2 separate regions of the Homo sapiens genome follow, and region 1 is linked to region 2. The links come from fine-mapping of genetic effects on gene expression. A gene starts in region 2. The other region holds a variant in brackets. All regions are shown on one strand. Distances are from middle to middle.

Evidence for each region. PIP is the estimated chance that this variant, and not a neighbour inherited with it, causes the effect.
Region 1: its variant is fine-mapped to the expression of CSPP1 in monocytes after LPS (Fairfax 2014, PIP 0.95).

The regions. Positions count from the first base shown.
Region 1 is chr8:66,179,443-66,189,707 of GRCh38, forward strand. It overlaps LOC112268029 (a long non-coding RNA gene), which reads right to left and starts at 7,206. Exons shown (of 4, transcript XR_002956713.2): 1 at 7,119-7,206; 2 at 3,449-3,549; 3 at 2,381-2,439; 4 at 444-518. LOC124901954 (a long non-coding RNA gene) reads left to right here and starts at 6,074. Exons shown (of 2, transcript XR_007060948.1): 1 at 6,074-7,451; 2 at 9,390-9,519. RefSeq lists an enhancer at 7,022-7,632. The variant TGATAGATA/T (reference allele first, on the strand shown) is at 4,132.
Region 2 is chr8:67,059,781-67,069,944 of GRCh38, forward strand. CSPP1 (centrosome and spindle pole associated protein 1) reads left to right here and starts at 4,612. Exons shown (of 31, transcript NM_001382391.1): 1 at 4,612-4,758. It overlaps COPS5 (COP9 signalosome subunit 5), which reads right to left and starts at 2,353. Exons shown (of 8, transcript NM_006837.3): 1 at 2,074-2,353. The coding sequence starts at 2,216. RefSeq lists enhancers at 2,020-2,109, 2,290-2,559 and silencers at 4,490-4,629, 4,568-4,755.

The sequences.
Region 1 (10,265 bases), 880 kb before region 2:
AAAAGGCTTAAACTGCTTGACTACAGGGCTAAATTCATTAGTTACATGTTTTCATTGGTCAATATTGAGTCTGTAAAAAAAAACTCGTTCATTTCACCTCCAAATACTATCAACATCCATAATAGTATCCACATCTGGGCCACCCAGGGTGGTTCTTTTTAATTATTTCTTTTTCCAAATCCAAATGTGCTTCATGTCAGCCTGTTAAATAAATAAATGCTCTCTGACATGTCGCAGAATGGAATGGAATGCTAAGCCTGTAAAACTATATTCAATTTTTGATTAATTGACACTATCATATAGGTGGGAGGCAGTTACCTCTAATTCTGCAATTCAAAATGCAATTCCAAGTTCTTGTGCCTGTGATTCAATTCAGCTTCCAGATAACCATCAGAGTTGTTTATCGGAAATTTCCTGCTCCTCATTTCTGATTACTTCTGCTGCTTCCTTTGTAGCTAATGTGACAAATGATGCAATGCATATTTCAACTTCCATTTTGGGTCTATACCAATCCACAACTGCTCTTAGGAACAAAGGGAAGGCAGGGAGAGAAATGTTGACAGTTTGCAGAGAAGCCAGCCCATAGTTGGATCACTGCACCATGTTATGTACTTTTGACATAAGAGAACAGAGAGAATGTGCCTACTTGGAAAGATGTGAGTTGTTAATAGAAGATCATGATTATGGAAAATGGTTGAGTTTCTGGGAGAAAGCTGTGTTTTATATTGGTAGGAAAGCACACAGAACCTTAGATTTTGTTATTGTGGGCTTTTTTTTTTTTTATTAAGCTGGAATGGGTTCAACATTTTTGCTTACTTTCCTTTATGAACTGTTTTCTGACCCTGTTAGCAGATTTCAGCTTGGATGTCAATCTGGAGGTGAAACGTTGACTTGGAATAGGAAGTTTCAGTGCAGTAAATGGACACAGAAGATAAACTAGGAAAGGGATGTGGTTATGAGTTTAGCTGGGGAGGTCTGGGAGGTTCTTCCAGAGAAGACACAACAAGTTTTGGGCTCTGACTAAACCCATGCCCATACAAATCTCTCTCCCATTGGGCTATCTGGGGGATATTGTTTTAGTATAGCTCCCTCATCACTGTTGAGTCCTTGCTGTGAGGTTTTCTTGGGGTAAGTCATTAATAGAGCCAAAGTGGCTCCAACTAGGGAGTAAGGAAAAAAATGTTCCTGAACCCCAGAGGAAGAGAAGCTATGCACAGCCACAATTTATCTGTATTTGTCTGTTCTCACACTGCTAATAAAGACATACCTGAGACTGGGTAATTTATAAAGGAAAGCAGTTTAATGGACTCACATTTTCACATGGTAGGGGAGGCCTCACAATCATGGCAGAAGGCAATGGAGAAGCAAAGACACGTCTTACATGGTGGCAGGCAAGAGAGAGCATGTGAAAGAGAACTCCCCTTTCTAAAACCATCAGATCTGATGAGACTTATTTACTATCACAAGAACAGCATGGGAACAACCCACCCTTATGATTCAGTTACCTCCCACCAGGTCTCTCCCACAACACGTGGGAATTATGGGGGCTACAATTCAAGATGAGATTTGGGTGGGGACACAATCTAACCATATCATTATCCAAAATGTATATCTCATTAAATCACGCAGTTTTCACATTAGAAATGACTTAAAGAGATCACTTGGTTTAAATGAGAACCAGAGAAGTTAAGTGACTTACCTGAAGTCACTCAGCAAGTTAGTGGTAAAGTGAGAATTAGGAACCAGCTCTTTTGATTGCAAGCCCATATTATTTGCATAATGTAACAATAACCTTTGGACTTTCTTTTCCAGCAGAGGCACACAAACTGAGGTGAAAAGATGAATTTTAAAATATTTTAGAGCTAGAATCTCACTTTCTTGCCCAGGCTGAAGGCACTGTGATACTCACTGCAGCCTAGAACTCCAGGACTCAAGCGATCCTCAGACTCCTGAGCAGTTGGAATTATAGGCATCAATCACCATGCCTGGCCTGAGAAGATGCATTTAGATAAAGTAATATATTCACACACCAATTGTGGAGTAGCTTTTTATACATTTTCCTTATTTGATAAACTAAGGCATGAGAATGCAGAAATTCTCTGTGCATGCTCATGTCTGTGGCACCTGATTTTCAATCTGTGTGTGCATACATTGCAATTTACTTTTCAGTATTACCAAATTAAAAGCATTAATTTGATTATTCTGCCTAGGTGACCTTTGAAAAAAGTGATCTTTGGATACAGTATGGAGGGTGAAAGGGATTCTTAAAATTATAATATAGATCTATGATTTGAGAAATAACATAATGCAGATAACTTAAATGTGCTATAAACTAAATATCCAAATACATAGAAATCACCACTGACAGATCTGATCTTACATGTAAGAATAACTTCTGGAAAGGAGTCATTGGAGAATCAATTTCAATGCTTTTAGAACCTAAAAACACAATCCAAGAAACATGGGCACAAAAACAGGGATTACTTCATGTTTTAAATCATATTTTTCAATGGCTACATAATATACGGTATAGGTAAATTAAAACAGAGCCAACACAACAGTCTAATAAAGAAATATCAGAAATAATAGGTAACTAGTGGGCATATTTTTGTCACTTGTATCACCTTGTACCTTCACAAGCTTCTATTAGCACAGCTCGTGGTGAACAAACACCATCTCCAAGTTGGCTAACAGAAACATTTGTTGAAATGAATCTACTGTTTCCAATGAGAGCCTTCAGAAATGCCTAGGGTGGACAGGTGGTTTGGTAATTGTTTGTAACTGTTCTTTAGATAGATTAAGTAACTGCCTTCTGCTTCCACAGGAGGACTGAGGAAAGGCCCTCAAACAGCAAAATATCTAACTGCTTCACTGGCAACAATAACTTCTGTTAGTCTCTTCTGATTATCAAAGCCATATGTGCTCTTTGCAGAAAACTTAGAAAAATCAGAAAAGCATAAAGAATATAAAATTCCTCAGAATATCTGAATCTAAAGATCATCACAGATAATTAATATTTTGTTGTTTCCCTTGAGCATTTTTCCTGAGCTCATAATCATAATTTTGATAACACCATGTTCTTAATACTGAATCTCTGCTTAAAAAAAAAACTCTCATTTTAACATTTAAAATAATTGAGAGAGTAAATTTTAAATGTTCTCATCACCAGAAATTGGTAAGTAAGTGAGGTAATGGATATGTTGATAACTTGATTTAGCCATTCCACAATATACGCATATATCAAAACATGTCATACACCATAAACATATACAATTTTTATTTGTCAATTTACATTAATTAATTAATTCATTGCAAAATAATTTGTTGAAGAAATCTTCCCCAGATTCCTATATTAGGTTCAGCACCTGTGCTTCATATTTTCCTAATAGCATGAATGTCCTTCATTGTAAAGCTCACATTTTGTTATAGTTACTGGTACAATATGTACCTCCTTTGCTGGACAGTAAACTGTGTAGCAGGGCTTTGATCATCTTTGTAAGTTGCCATATCCATTTCTCTTGCCCCAAACATGGTAGATTTCCAGTAAGCCTGTTGAATGAATGAAATGCAGAAAATCTGTTGAATGAATGAAGTATAAAAATTACCCATAAACTGTACATATTATCCAGACATAACTAAATAACATTTTATAGTTAAAATTTTATAATCTACTTTTTTCCATTTAAAATTATATCTCAAGCATTTTCCTATATCCAAGTGAAATCCTTTTTTTATTGCATGGTATTGCATCAATATGTGCCAAATTTTCTATTCATTCTTCATTGTTGATCACTGCCCTAATGACCTGCTTTTTATTCTTTTTCATCTTACCCTTGCACTTTTAAGTAATATACCCACAGAATTATTTCTTGAGTCTTCAAATATAAACAATATCTCTTAACTCCCAGATTGTAAGATGAGATTATTTATCCCTTCAACTTTTCAGACACCCTCCTGCACCTTGATCTCTCAGTCTCTTTCATCTATACTTCTACTTCTAGATTGTCCGTTAATTATTTTTATAATCATAGTTAAATCTCCCATGCTTTTATGCTTTTACTATAATTGATTCTACACTTGATCTTAGCCAAAGGGCCAAGAAGCTCTAGATAGATATAGATAGACAGATGA[TGATAGATA/T]GATAGATAGATAGATAGATAGATAGATAGATAGATAGATAGATTCTAAAAGTAGGAAGTCAATATAGTTTTTAATTATTGACTATGAAAGTTGTTCACTGAAGAATAAGATCATAGACTCTGATTACATTTCCTATCTTGTTTTTTTTTCTACAATTTTCAATTGACACTTTTATATTTTTTATAATCCCAGTTTGGTTTTTTCCTAGAATTACGAACTGCCTTAATTTTGTTCTCATATTTTTTCAAATTTTCAATCATGATAAGTAATCTATTAAGTCCTCCCCCTCTTTTTAAGACCTTGATCCTTGAGCATGCTAACCTGCTGCTTTCAAACTAGTTACTTTCTAAATCTGATGCATAGGTTTCTTCCTGGGACTTCTCTTTTCTTCTTCCCTGGATTGAATTCCCTGTCCGGAATCACAGGACTTTTTCCCTTTTGATTTCTGAATTTTATTTTGCTGGAGAACATCCTCCGGTAACTTTCTAGGAAAGGATGTATGAGAAGCATGTTTTCTGACTCCTTGCATTCCTGAAAATTGTTATATTTTACCCAGATATTTGAGTGATGCTTTACCAAGGTATATAATTTCAAGTTAAATATAATTCTCTTCTAGAACTTAAAGTATTATTCTCTTGTGTTGTATTATCCAGTGCTGCTGATAAGAAATCCAGTATCATTCTAATTTTCCTTTTATTTCTTTCTTTTTTTTTCATGGAGTCTCACTCTGCTGCCTACGCTGGACAGTGTAGTGGTGCGATCTCAAATCACTGCAATCTCTGCCTCCCAGGTTCAAGCGATTCTCCTACCTCAGCTTCCCAAGTAGCTGGGAATACAGGCATGTGCCACCATGCCTGGCTAATTTTTGTATTTTTAGTAGAGATGGAGTTTCACCATGTTGGCCAGGCTGGTCTTGAACTCATGACCTCAAGTGATCCACCCACCTCAGCCTCCCAAAGTGCTGGGATTACAGGAGTGAGCCACCATGCCCAGCCTGATTCTCATTTTTCATAGGACCTTTTTTCTTATTCTCTCTTGAAGCTTTTAGTCTCTTCTTTTTTTGTTGATGTTCTGAAATTTTAGAATGGTCTTTGGGTCTTTTTTTCATGTACTCATTTTAATTTTGAGGTTCTTACTCTTCAATGGTGAAAAAAACCTCCTGTATTATTTATATTATAATTTTTTCCATTTTCTCTATTCTTTCTTTTTAGGGATTTCTGTTATGAGATGTTCTCCCCTCTATTGGCCATCTGTGTTTACTATTTTCTGTCATGTTAGAACTTTTAGTTTGCGATTCTGCTTTCTAAGATATTCTTCAATATCTTCCAGCTCTTCAGTTACTTTCATTTTACAACTGTATATTCAACCTCCAGACTTTTTATTCTTTCTCCATTCCTTTTTAATAACTCCTGTTCTTGCTTTACAGTGGAATGTTCTCTCCTATTTCTTTAAGAATGTTAACTAGAAGGTTTCTAAGTTTTCTTTCTTTCCCTGAATTATCTCTTCCATCTGTGGTCATTTAAAAATCTTTATTTATCTTAATTTCTCAATTTTATGCTGGAGATCTTTGTGAAATCCCTGAAGGCGACCCTGTGTATGATTGGTAGCACCCTCATGTTTAATAATTATTCAGTACAAAGTTGATGAAGAACTCTATATGCAGGGTAAGGAGCCTGCTTCTCGCCAAGCAGCCTTCCTTCCAGGGTGATCACATGGTGAGCTAGTCTTTACTTGGGATACCCATGAATGTCATATTGTAGAGAATTCCTCTCTGTAGCCATTCAATTTTATTTAAGAAAAATGTATGTATTAGTTTTCTGAGTATGCCATAGCAAATACCAGACTGGATAACTTAAACAGCAGAAATTTATTTTCTCCCTTCTGGAGGCTAGAAGTCCAAGATCAAAGTGTCAACAGAGTTGCTTTCTTCCCAGGCCTCTCTCCTTGGCTTGTGGTTGGCCATCTTCTCCCTGTGCTTTCACACGGCCTTTCCTCTGTGCATGTCCCTGCTTCCATCTTCTCTGCCTACAAAGACATCAGCCATATTGTATTAGGGATAACCCATATGACCTAATTTAACCTTAATTACCTCTTTAAAGGCTCTGTTTCCAAATACAGTTACATTCTGAAATATGAGAAGTTAGGACTTCAACATGTGAATTTTTCTACATCTAGGAGACACATTTAGGCCAATAACAGTATACCTGGCAATGTTTATTTCTTTATTTGCTTGTTGCCTAACAGGCAGACATTTGAATGTCTGGCATTCTTCACATGGGATGAGAAAAGTTGGTGGAGAGGTTGACTCTTCCATATATAAACTTTCAGGTATTCTCCGTATTTTTGACCCTTTTCTCACTCCTGTCTTTGGCGAGACTTGGAGGTTCTGAGCCTTGAGCCCCTCCTAGGCTCTGCAGATGGACTCCTCCCTCAGCTGCCTGCCTCCTACAGCCTCTTCATCTGCATTTTCCTCTGGAGACACAGCATCTTCTCTGTCCTCCTCCTTCCTGTCCCTTTGTGGACCCCTTACAGCTGCTTTCTCTCCCTTTCTTCCTCAAACACCATCTTCTCTGCTCTCATTATTTCAGAAGTTTGCTAAACCCTCTCACTTGCTTACGTTATCCTGTTATTTTCATCATTTGGGTTTATACTATCATTTTAATGGAGTCTCATAGAAATGAGAGGTAAACACACAAGCATTTTGGAAAGACCCCTCTGAATGCAGTATGGAGGGTACATTGGTGGGGCAAGAAGGCAGAAAAGAGACTTATGGTCTTTGGGTTATTAGCCTTGGGCCTCTGCAGAATGAGCATCACAGGCCCAGGATGACAGGAGGTGCGGAAGGCAAGGGCAGCATCCCAGGAGCCCAGGACTCTCTACCAGTGGGCAGCCACATCGCTGTCCACGGTTTGGTGGGGAAAGTTCCCCATCAATCAAAAATTCTGTCAGCACCCATGAGTCATCACTGAGTGTCTTACCTCCTTTCCTGAGAAAATGGCAAGGACTTTGTTACCTGTGCATCTATTTTTCCATAAGTTGAGAAGTAACTGACCCTGGGAAGATGACTCAGAGCATCAGAAAACCAGCACGTTTCTGCTTCTCTTACAAGCCCTGGTCTTGACAGACACGATTGCCCTTTCTATTTACATCATAATACATTGATTGTTCTGTTTGAGACTCCAGGTAATGGATGGAGGGCAGTGAAAGGATGTGTGTGAACTTTCTGTCATGAAAGACAATTTACAGGAACTAATCATCTTACAATTGTTGCTCAGAAAAAAGAAATTCATCAACCAGGCACCCCCAAACAGGTATTTATATTCATGAACATCACTTAACTCTGAAGAAAGAGTTCCTTCCCAAAGAAGCCTCCTAGGAATGTTGCTGGTGTCATAAAAAGGGAAGGGAAAAGTTAAAGAAAACCTAAATTCATATTTTACTGCAGAATTTGTTAGTGTTTTTAAATTTTTATTCAGCAGTGTAAATCCCTAAGTCTTTAGCATTTCCCAGACTCATTTGACCACAGAACATGTATATCATTGGACTAGCTGGGAAATATAATAAGCCCAAAGGCATTTTATGAGGAGTCCAGCTAGACTTTTTTTTCTTTACCATTTGATATTTAAGTTCATGATTAGAGCTACTAGTAATTTTCTACCACTCCAAGGAGAAAATTTTAAATGTCACTGTTTGCCTTTGAAGAGAGGGTCCCAGGGTATGGAAACTTGTCTGTTTTCACTGCTTCTGAGGATTACCTGCCCTGGGAAAGGTCACCTTCAAACAAGAAGCTGCCAAACCTCTGCTTACCATGCATAAAATGGTCAACTCTGTTTGCATAATCACCCTTGAAGGGTGATTATGGCAAACCTATGTCTGAAAAAGAAAGGATCTGATTTTCCACATTCACTATTCTTTTTGCATTTTAGGAGTGATCTGAGCAACAGCATTGTCAGGATAATAGAAAAAGACTTAGCGGCCCTAAGCAGCAGTGATGTTTAATGCCCCTATTCATATAAAGTTAAATATAGATACATATTTGAGCCTCACCTTATTTTCCAACTTGTTTTCTTTGTACTTTAATTCCTAATAGCTATAAAGTTCCTGGTCAGAGGAAGGAGTTGGTCTTTACAGAAATGTAGCCCAGTGGAAATCCATGGACCTACCTTGCAAAGGAGAACCCTCTTAGAGTAGGCAGGCGTGTCCTAGACAAAATTGGTTGCAATGGATGAAGTTGGGCTTTTCATAAGGGAAACTCAGTTATTCAAGAAAGAGCAAGCAATGAGGGCTACAGAGGTGGACAGAAACTTGGGAGGCCAACATTCAGGAGCTGTGGATTTCAAAGATGTTACAGGTTGTGGGTTCAGACCTTTCGCAAACCTTGGAACAAGATCTTTTCATCTTCAAGGCTTCTGTTATCCATCTGTAGAACATTCTTTTCCATTTTGAGAGCTAGTTATTTTTGATCGTGTGTGTGTTTATCTGTCTGTCCTCCAGTTCATTTATGAACTTACCTCCCACTTCTTTTAGTCCATGAATCCTAATATACTGCTTATGCATGGTACATATTTGTTGTTGGGGATTGACTATGTGTGTCCTACTTAGGAGAAAGGCTACATCAATTCAAGATGGTCTTATAACTGTGAAAGCCAATGAGTCCTTGAAGTGTGATTGTGGGAAACCTATGTCTGAAAAAGAAAGGATCTGATTTTCCACAGTCACTATTCTTTTTGCATTTTAGGAGTGATCTGAGCAACAACATTGCCAGGATAATAGGAAAAGACTTAACCGCGCAAAGCAGCAGTGATGTTTAATTCTCCAATTTATATAAAGTTAAATATAGATACATATTTGACCCTCACCTCATTTTTCAACTTGTTTTCTTTGTACTGTAATTCCTAATAGCTATAAAGTTCTGCCTTGTGCTAATGTACTTTTATCTTTCCAGAGAAAATGATACTTGTAATAAAGGGATGTTTTTTATTTGAATGGAGAAATACAATTATATAACCTGATAGATTTATTCTATAAAAGTGCTATTCTGCTTTTTGAAGTAGGACAGTGCCTTGGACTAAATGTTTGTGTGTCCCCAAAATTCATATGTTGAAGCCTAATCCCCAATGTGATGGTATTTGGAGGTGGGGCCTTTGGAAGGTAATTAGGTCATGAGGGTGGAAACCCCATGAGTGGGATTAGTGCCCTTATAAAAAGAGACAGAAGAGATGATCTCTCTTCCTCTTGCCTATGTGAAGATACAGTGAGAAGTCATCCATCTGCAAACTAGGAAGAAGGCCCTCGCCAGACACTGGATCCACTGGCAGCTTGATCTTGGATGTCCCAGCCTCCAGAACTGTGGGAAATAAATGTTTGTTATTGAAGCCACCTAGTCTATGGTATTTTTTTTTTTTTTGGCAGCCCGAACTGATTAAGGTAAGCAGCATATCTGATTCTTGTCTGTAATGGAATTTGTTCTAATATCTTTACTTAAATATTTCACTAAAAACAAAGCACTTCAAAGCAGCTTTACAACACTTTTCTGTGGGGACACACTAGACTTCTAAGTATGACATTTGTCAAGCTACCTGAATACAGGTCTGACTCTTGCTTTCTAGCTGGGTGACCTTGGGCAATTTATTTAAATTTTCCAAACTCATTTCCTTTTTTTTTTTTTGTCAAACCAGTATAAAATGTAAGTCCCCTTATTTGTTTCTCTTGTGGGAGTAAATGAGATAGTGCACTCAGGGCCTAGTTATAAGTATTCAATAAACATTTGTCGTTGTTGTTGGGGTAATGATGTGTTGCTTGGTACTGTTGAAGGTGGCAACTCTGTCTAATCTCAGGTCCTCCAAGCCTACCATTCTGTGCTCAGTCACAATAAGTGTTTATTAATGAAATAAAAGAATAAGATAAATATACTCACTAGGTTTTTCTTCTAATATTAGAAGCTTTCAGCCACCTAGTTGATTGAAGATTATTTTTTTCAATTTATAGACTATTTTATAACAGTGATTTTAGATTGACAGAAAAAATGAGCAGAAAGTAGACAGTTCTGAGAGATTCTTTCTCCCCACCCCATACCACCCCTCCCTTTAGTTTTCCCCTATTATTAACATCTTGCATTTGTTTCA
Region 2 (10,164 bases):
GTGCCTAACTGTTCTGAGGCCTAACCTTCTGGCCTAATGGTTAAGAATGTGGGTTCTGACATTCATCTGCTAAGGTCTGAATCTTGACATTGCCATTCCCTAGCTGTGGTATTGGGACAACCCTGTAATATCTGTGCCTAGGTTTCCTTTTCTGTAAATAGGGATATTCATAATTGTTGTTAGGATGAAATAAATGAAATAATGTATATAAAGTGCTTAGTGCCTTACACATACTAGAACCCTAATAAGTGCTAGCTGTTATCAGCATTATTAACCTGTCTCTTAACCCTACTCTCAAAGAACAGAGTGTTGAAGGGTGGGCTTCCCTGTTATATCAGCCTTAAATTAAAAAGTAGCCCTAATATCCTAGTCTCCTATGATCACTATTTCAGAGTTGGTCATCAGTGAATTAAACTCTTGAATAAAATTACATTTTGGTCTCATTAATGCAGCCCAAGACAGCTAGGATGAATATAATTAGAGCCACAATTAGACAGTGAGGCAGGCCAACAGTTTCCAAATATTTAAGAGTACACGAACCTAAAATGCACAGCCTGTTACAGAAGCAAGCAGATAACCAAGCAACTTAAGCAGCCTTACAGAGCAGTCAGTCAACGTCTCTACAAAGCCTTTTTAGATGTCTGCCCACAGAAAGAATCCAAATTTAATTCCTAAGCTTTGCCAGATTTCAACCAAAAGCTGAAAAATGTGTAGACCTCATGTTGGAAGTCAAGACATGAATCGAAATCTTGGCTTCTCCCTTTACTGGAGAAAAGAAGAAAGACAAGTTACTGTGCTCCTATTACATACATTCTAGACGACTCTTTTTATACATTATCTCACCTAATCTCTATGACAATACCAATAAGTAGGTCTTATTTCCATATTATGACAAATGAAGATGGATAAGTAAATTTCCTAAGGTCAATCAACTAGTTAGTGACAGCTGTGAGATTTGATCTTAGGTCTGACTATTGCTCAGTTGAGAGTTCACTTATGTCAGTATGATCATAAATTACATAACGTATTTGCTTGTTTTTTAATTTGTAACAAAAGGATGGATATACTGTACTGGGTTGTCATGAAAATTAAATGACGTGGAAATCTCTAGCTAGGTGCTTCCGCAGTTCACCATTGTGGAATCTGAATACTGAGAGACAAGGCTAGCCTTGTAAAAAAAACTGTGAGGCAGTAGAAGTATGTCCTCTTGTTGACCACAGCTTTCCTTTCTATCTAACCATTAGCTTTCGTGCTCTTTTTACTCTCAAACATAACCCGTAATAATTATCTTTTCCTGATAGCAGGAAATCTCTCAGGAGATGCTCTCAGGAAAAGATAAATATTATGGGTAAAGATCCCTCGACTTGTCACCACTCCCAGGGAAAAATGGATATTGTTGAAGGGCAAAAGGTCTTAAGCTCTATTTTTATAATTTCTGGCTTATGGGAACTGGTGGAGTAACATTTTAGAGACCAGGTAGTAGAGCCTCCGTGTGCCTCCGAAATAATTACCAGCAATCAAAAAACTATTATAGGCCCAGGCCTCACGCCTGTAATCCCAGCACTTTGGAAGGCGAAGGCGGGAGGATCGCTTGAAGGCAGAAGCTCGAGATCAGCCTGAGCAACACAGCGAGGACCCATTTCTATTAAAAAAAAAAGAAAAGAAAATAGCTCATAGCTATTTTTGAGACCTTGGGCTGCTGACTCGATTTCTGAAAACAGCTGCAATCCCCAGTTTGGGATTAGTTGAAGACCCAAACAAGGTGCATGTCGACACTGGGCTCAAGGTAGGGTGTGTGGCATATATGACAATACGGATGTTCAGAAGTGACAACTTAAATCACCGCTTGTTGTTCTCCCCTTACATCACCCGGGGGCAAATGGATTAAAGCGACAGAAAGGGGAGTGAAAGCCCCAGCGGAGGGCTTAGGCTCTACTTGCAGATCCAAGACGCATATTCTGTCCCCCTCCCAGTCGGTGAAAGCTCTTCACCCCTTTCACCTCCCTCTCCCTCTGGGTCTCTTAAACTCCGCCACCCTTTCCCTCCCCTGCGTCTCGCCAGGGACCTCCTCACTCCTTAGTCCAGGGCTTCGCCGCCAGGATTTCTTGCTGCTGTTTCTTGTCGTATTTGTAGATTTCATCGATACTCTGAGCTTCCTGCATGTTGTTGGCCAGTTCCCAGGTTTTCTGGGCCATACCGCTCCCGGACGCCGCCATCGCCGAGGAAGCGGAGAAGTTGTCGTCTCTACAACCAAGACGCAACTTTACCTCGCTAGGTTTCCGGGTGTGGGCCTTGACCCTCCGCACCACGGGAACAAACTCTTACCTAGACTCTTGGGGCAGCCATGACACCTAGAACCGGAGGTGAAGTTGGTAGAGACCATTCAGGGAAGACAGGGACCTTTCCGGGACATGACGATATAAACAGCAGTTACAGTAATAGCGAGAGACGAATCTTCTTGTTGCTTAAATGAGAACATCTTGTCTCGGAAAATTATATGTGTGAAATAGAACAAACAAAGTTATAGGGTATGGGAGTGGTATAGTCTTCCGCACCGGAAGAAGGGCATGTAACGTTATTCCAGAAACTGGTATTTGCCTTCTCTGCTTCTAATGCGCAGGCTCGGCCTCCGCCATATTAAAGGTAGCTGGAGCCTTAAGAGCGGGATGTGGAGGGCGGAAAGTGTTTTTGTGTGGGTATAGGTACCTTAAATGAGATAAGTTTGTTGAAAGACTAAAAGGTAAGGCTGTCTGTTGTACAACTGAGCTAAAAGTCGTTCTGGAAGCTGGTTGAGAGGAAGATAAACATGGCATTCCCGTTTACTTCAAGATGACTCACTGTACATGCGTAAAAGCTAACGGGCTCGTGGTGGCTTGGCACTTCACTTGCAGATGGGCTTTTTCTATCGATGCGAGGAGGCAGTGGGTACTCCTTGATTGCTTTTTTGCGCTTTGGTAAAAGTTAACATCTACGTATATATAATGTGCCATTACTGATCTGAAAATGTCCAGTACTCAGTTCTCGTAACAGGTTACAGTTAAATCTTTGGCACTCCTGTGAACCGCATTTGTTCCCAAAGCGTAATTAATCTGGGTAACTGGTTTGTTTTCTTCCTACAGTTAATACAATGTTTAATTTTTTTATTAGTTCACGTGTTTTAGGTTTTCTTTTTTCTCCATCTCATTCTTCCATCCGTGCAAGATTTTAAGTTTCAAGACACAGGGAGCAGGTCTGCGTTCCTTGTTTTATCTCCTAGCACCTAGCATAGGTGTTCAAGATTTTTTTTTCTTTTATTTCCTGAAAAGATAGCATGACAGGCCAGGCGCGGTGGCTCACGCCTGTAATCCCAGCACTTTGGGCAGCCGAGGCGGGCTGATCACTTGAGGTCGGGAGTTCAAGACCAGCCTGGCCAACATGGTGAAACCCCGTCTCTACTAAAAAAATACAAAAAAAAATTAGCCGGGCGTGATGATGTGCGCCTGTAGTCCCGGCTACTCATGAGGCTGAGGCAGGAGAATCGTTTGAACCCAGGAGGCGGAAGTTGCAGTGATCCGAGATTGCGCCACTCCAGCCTGTTAGACAGAGCCAGTCTCAAAAAAAAAAAAAAAAAAAAAAAGAAAGAAAGAAAGAAAAAAGAAGAAAAAAGAAAAGATAGCACCACAGCTGTTAACAACCTGGCCCCTATGCACCTCTTCCAGCTTCATCTCTTTTTAGTCCCCCCTTGAAACTTTTCATTCTAGCAATGCAGATATCTTTACTTTGGCTTTGCATATGTGGTCAGCATTGCTTGAAACGCTCTTTCGTAAATTTTCTGCCTGGGAACTCCTATTAATCTTTAAAAATGCAGTCCAGTGAGATCGACCACGAACTCTTTCTTGACGCTCCAATTACCATTCCTTCCATTATGTCTGTAAGTCTCCGTAGGTGCTTCTATAACTGTTACAATGCGTTGTAATAATCAGTTAAGACAAAAACATTAGAATTATTGAATCCACACCACAGCTTGCTGTTTTGGCACTGACTTTCCGTTGAAGAAAATTTCCTTTAAAACCATCTTACAAAGAAATTTAGGGTAAAATAGTACATTAATACCTACCCTTAGTTCCACTCTCCTGGGAAACTAGAGGTCTCTTTTCTAGTGGTAGCATATGGCCATATGCGATTGTATTGGGGTGAACTGAATAATATGTTGAAAATGGTAATGAAAGCCCAGGACCCAACGTTGACCACACTCCTGGGCTAGGAGTAATGCCCTGAGAGGTATGCCAACACTTTTCCTCTCACTACCACCCCTCCCCATTTTTCTTTCCAGGCTCTTACACTGTTCCTAAGCTGGCTGGTGCATGGGAGGCTGGAGAGGCTGCAATAGATTTAGCCTGAGAAGTGGCCCCCACAGTTTAATAGCCCCTGGGCACAGCAGGAGAACGAGTTGACCAAGTCCCCGGCCAGCGTACTGGCGAACCGAGAGCAGCGGGCAGCTATGCGGCCTCCAGGACAGCAGGGGGCGATGTCTTGCCGCGCGGCCGCCTGCAGTGGGGGCGGGGCCGTACCCGGCGGTTGGCGAAGGGCGAGCGGAGGGCTGGGCCTGAGGGGCGGAGCCCCGGCCCGGAGGTCTGTCATGCTGTTCCCGCTCCAGGTGGCCGCTGTAACCTCTTCGGTCCGCGACGATCCTCTAGAGCACTGTGTGTCTCCCCGGACGCGAGCCCGCTCCCCTGAGTAAGAGTCAGCCAGCCGCGGATGGGGAGCGTGAGTGGCGAGGTGTGGCCTGGGGTGGTGTAGGTTGAGGGTGGAGGGTCCTGGGGCTGCATTCGCTGCCCCGGAGCGGGGGCAGGGGCAGTGGCTCCCTCGGGGCGTAGGTCTCGAGGCAACTAGGCCGGCGACGTGCCAGAGTTACAGGCTCTGGAATCTGGGGGTGGGGGTGGGGTTTCTTGTCGGCAGGGGGTCTCGTGGCGGCTGGGTGCGGTGGGGGAGGTGCCCGAGTTAAGGGTGTGGAGAGTTGGGATTTCGCCGCCGTGAGGCCGGCATCGGTGACTACGAGTTATGAGGGTTGGGGGCGGGAGTTCTGTGAGCAGGGGTCTTGCAGCTGCCGGGGTCGGGGAGGTTCCCTGGTTACACGGTCCGGATTCCTGGGCCACTGCGGTCGCTGCTGCCCGCGGTGTTGTTGATAGCTGGTTGCCTGACGACGCTTCCTAGTCAGCCACCTCCAGGGCCCGGGGGCGAGCGGTTCCTTGGTTCCCATGCGCCTTCTCTCCCCAACGGCCAGGCCCCCCCTGCTCCGTCAAGCCTCCCCGAGCGCCTTTCTTGCCCCTCGGTGCTTGTTATTGTTAACGTGGGAGCGCTTGTGCGCACTGCTTTGCTAGTAAAACTTATTTAATCTTCACCGTAGCTCGTAGCTCGTACTGTTGTGACCGTATTTCCCCCCGTGATTGCCCGACTGCTTGAGCTTGAACCTCTTGTTTCTAACTGCCTTGATTTTAGGAATCTTATGTGGGACTCAAATCCAGTTGTCAGTACATGTTATTAATGGGACTCATCTTTTGAGAGAGGCTAGCTCTCAAGATTGTAGGATTAAGACGCTTAACTAGGATTGCGGGGAAGACTAAATTCTGAAGTAAACCATCACCTACTTTCCAAACACCTTGGAAAATGCAGGGGCTTAAAAGCAACCGATAGGAATTTATAAAAAGCCTAAATTAGGCTTTATTCTGTGTGAAGGAATGACTTGTAATGTTGACAAGCTCCATGGAAGCTATTGAGGTATTTTCTTTTCTCCATATCATTCTTCTCCCTAGGAGGTCGCTAGCTTTCTGGTGATTAAATGTCTGCTGAAATGCTCCACAAGGATCAAGTTTTTTTGTTTGTTTGTTTTGTTTTGTTTTTGGAGACAGGGTCTCGCTCTGTTGTACAGGCTGGAGTGCAGTGGCATTAGTAGAGAAGGGGGTTTCACCTTGTTGGCCAGGCTGGTCTCGAACTCCTGACCTCAAGTGATCCGTTTGCCTCGGCTTCCCAAAGTGCTGGAATTACGGCCCTGAGCCATTGTGCCCGTTCAAGTTTGGGTCTTCTGCCAGATGGCCGCCTGGGAGGGAGTGGGTGAGTTTAGACAGAGTAAATTGAAACAGGCTACTTTCGGTACAGTTTTTCTCAGATGAAGCTTTCAGACAAATATGAATTAACTGTTACACATTTGAGCAGATTTCAGATTATCCTTTTAACATCATTCTGACTTAGGTTCTGATGTACTTTCCTGAGTGGCAGGCAAGGGTGTTTGAGCAAGTGTTTCAGCAATTTGGCATAACCCAAAGGCTAATTTATGCTACTGCCGTTAATCACCATTAAGGGTGTATTATTAATAGCTACTGAAAGACTTCAACATGGTTTTATATATTTATTCACTCTCTCTTTGTATCCTGTCTCCCAGCCTCCCTCTCTTTCCCCCAGCAACAGTATTTACATCTTAGCAATATTTAGGGAAATTTGTCAAAATTTTGGTGTACCCATGGGAGGAAGTTGCTCATGTGGATGCCATCTGCCAGGAGGAAGATGGAGAACCTTTCATTCGGTAGATGGATCTCTGGATGGATGAGAAGTGAGAAACATTGTCCTGGTCACTTTGTCCCTCCCTTTCTTCTAAAGCTCTTTCACTGGCCCCTCCCCCCACCGCACATGTTATCACACTTTGACACCTGTTCTAGGTCCTGTTCCCCTACTCTAGGGTCTCTTTTTCCAGACAAAACTCTTCTCCCACAGCCTTAATGATTATTTTAAACACTGCTAGATCTTTATTTCCAGCCTGGGTTCTATTCTGAGTTGTAGACATTTTCAGATTGATTTCTTCGTATCTCCGGTGTATCCATTATGGATATCTCACATTCAGCTCCTAAACCCCTGTCAGCCTCTGTAGCAGGGGGCATTATCTTGTCCAAATTTGAGGACAAGAATCATGTTTATATATATACATATATATACACACACACATATATACACACATATATATTTGTTTTTTGTTTGTTTGTTTGTTTGTTTTTTGAGACAGAGTCTCACTCTGTTACCCATGCTGGAGTGCAGTGGTGTGATCTCGGCTCACTGCAACCTCTGCTTCCCATTTTCAAGCAATGGTTCTGCCTCCTGCTACACCCAGCTAATTTTTTTATTCGTAGTAAAGATGGGGTTTTGTCATGTTGGCCAGCCTGGTCTCAAACTCCTGACCTCAAGCGATCCGCCCGTCTTGGCCTCCCAAAGTGCTGGGATTACAGGCGTGAGCCACGGTGCCCAGCCACATTTTATATTTTTGACTACGCCAGCCTCTAGCACAATGTCATGCTTTAGGAGGGAAGTCATTTTCCATTTCTCATGCTCCCATAGTGGGGAGGAAATTTGTACTCCACTCCTTGAGAGGGAAAAGGATAGGAGCAACATTTTCCCATCTTTTTGTGACTGATGGATTTGGGAGAAGGAATTGGGCAAACTCAGTTTTAACTGGGTTCTGTTTGTTTATTGGATTTGACTAGACTTAGCAGAATGGGTATGCTCTGGTCTGCTTATATCTATATGATAAGCATAAAGAGCCAAAGGTTAAGGTTTAGAGATGTTGGTGTGGATTATGATAACCAAGTATCAATTATTGATTATTTAAATCTCAGCATACTTTACGTTTGCAGGCTCTGTTTTTTTTGTTTGTTTGTTTGTTTGTTTTGGTTTTTGAGACAAGAGTCTCGCTCTGTCACCTAGGCTGGAGTGCAGTGGCACGATCTCAGCTCACTGCAAGCTCTGCCTCCCAGGTTCACTCCATTCTCCTGCCTCAGCCTTCTGAGTAGCTGGAACTACAGGCGCCTGCCACCAAGCCTGGCTAATTTTTTGTACTTTTAGTAGAGACGGGGTTTCACCGTGTTAGCCAGGATGGTCTTGATCTCCTGACCTCGTGATCCGCCCGCCTCGGCCTCCCAAAGTGTTGGGATTACAGGTGTGAGCCACAACGCGCGGCTGCAGGCTCTGTTTTTAAGAGGTAAATCTTCATATATGCAAAGACTGTAAAGATACAACCATAAACAATAAAAGAATTGATCTGTTGATTTCTTTTTTTTTTTTTTTTGACAGAGTATTGCTCTGTCATCGAGGCTGTAGTACAGTGGCGTGATCTGGGCTCACTACAGCCTCTGCTTCCTGGGTTCAAGCAATTCTCCTGCCTCAGCCTCCTGAGTAGCTGGGACTACAGAGGTGTGCCACCATGCCTGGCTAATTTTTGTATTTTTAGTGGAGATGGGTTTTGCTGTGTTAGCCAGACTGGTCTCAAACTCCTAACCTCAGGTGATCCACTCTCCTTGGCTTCCCACAGTGCTGGGATTACAGGCATGGGCCACTGCGCCTGGCCTGATCTGTTGATTTCTAAGTGTTAGGTTCTCTGTCATAATTTTTATATGCATTATTTTCTTTTTTCTTCATAATATACTAGAATAAATGATATTTCTGTTTTATAGATTAGGCATAGAGCAGTTAAGGAACATGCTTGAGGTCATTCATGTTGAGATCAATAAGTGATAGAAGTATATTTCAAACTCAGTTCTTTCAATTAAACTATTTTCCTGAAAACTGTTTATCATCTACATACTATGTACACAGCTACTGGAGAAATAATACTTGGCCATGATGTCTTGAAAAAAGTTGTGAGTGACTTTATATTGTAGAGTGTCATATATAAATAATCTCATTTAGGTTTCTTTCAGCTGATTTATTTTTGGCAACTTAATCCTTAAATTATAAACTTTCTTACTCTATATTGTACCTATGCCATATTTATTAACCCAGTCTCTGTGATTCACCAAGTAATTCTTGAATAATTGTGTAGTTGAAATATGTTTTCTGTAAGTTACCACATGCTTTTAGGAGTGAGAAAAAGAAAAGTGGCCGTGATATCTAGAAACTGGTATTGCTAGAAACTAGCCTGGCATTCACAGTAACTTTGTGTTTTTCTGTTGAAGATAAACTATTGTACAGAATGTCAACATCAGATAAGGCCGCTCTGTGTCTATGATGGATCAAGACAAAAACATTCCATCAGTGTCTCCAAACACAGACAAAACGTAAATATTGTCCAAGAACCGAGATACCAAACATTCCCTTTCCCAGCTGATGTGAATGACTACTGCTTGTTTACCAGTTACAGCATTAGCCTCCCCCTATATTTTAGATTTATTGAGTGGTACCATCATAGAATTAACCCCACTTCTAACAGTGTTCAATCCTGAGCAAAGCTCCACTTCCTCAAATTAAGCCTTCCCCCAAATCACCCAACACATATAAGTCTTTTCCAATACCCTCTTACCACGATACCACAGGGTTCCCCATGGTGTGTGTTCTCCGTGCATTCCTTAATGCAATGAGTAGTACATCCAACTTAACTGTGGTAGTTTTCCTGGTGTTCTTTGGCTGGAGATCATTACCAGGAGAAAGCTCATTAGTGTCTTTGACTCTTTAATATTAAAGTCATTATAATCTAATCAGATTAGATACAGGAAAAATTTAGAAATGATTAGAAATGTACTTATATCTCGGATAAATCTTATGTTTTAGTTATGGCATATGCTATATTTACTATGGTTGTTTAAAAGTATGTTTTATTTGTACTTTTTGTACTTTTGATTACTGTAAGTTAAAATCAGTTCTATAATTTATAATGTTAAATAATTACAGTAAAGAGAAAGATAAGCATCTATAAATTCAAGAGGGAGATCTTTCAAAGCCTGGTTAGAACAACATGTAAATGAACATGTTAAATTAATAATTGTTATTAGGTGGTATGGAAACCTTAGTTCCATGTGAAGGTGGCATGTTACTGTTTTTTTTTTCTTTTTAGATAAATGACATTTCTTTTTTTTCTTTTCTTTCTTTTTTTTTTTTTTGAGATGGAGTCTCACTCTGTTGCCCAGACTGGAGTGCAGTGGCATGATCTCGGCTCACTGCAACTTCCACCTGCCTGGTTCAAGCGATTCTCCTGCCTCAGTGTCCCCCGGTAGTTGGGATTACAGGTATATACCACCATGCCTGGCTAATTTTTGTATTTTTAGTAGAGACGGGGTTTCGCCATATTGGCCAGGCTGGTCTCGAACTCCTGACCTCAGGTGATCCACCTGCCTCACACTCCCAAAGTGCTGGGATTACAGGCGTGAG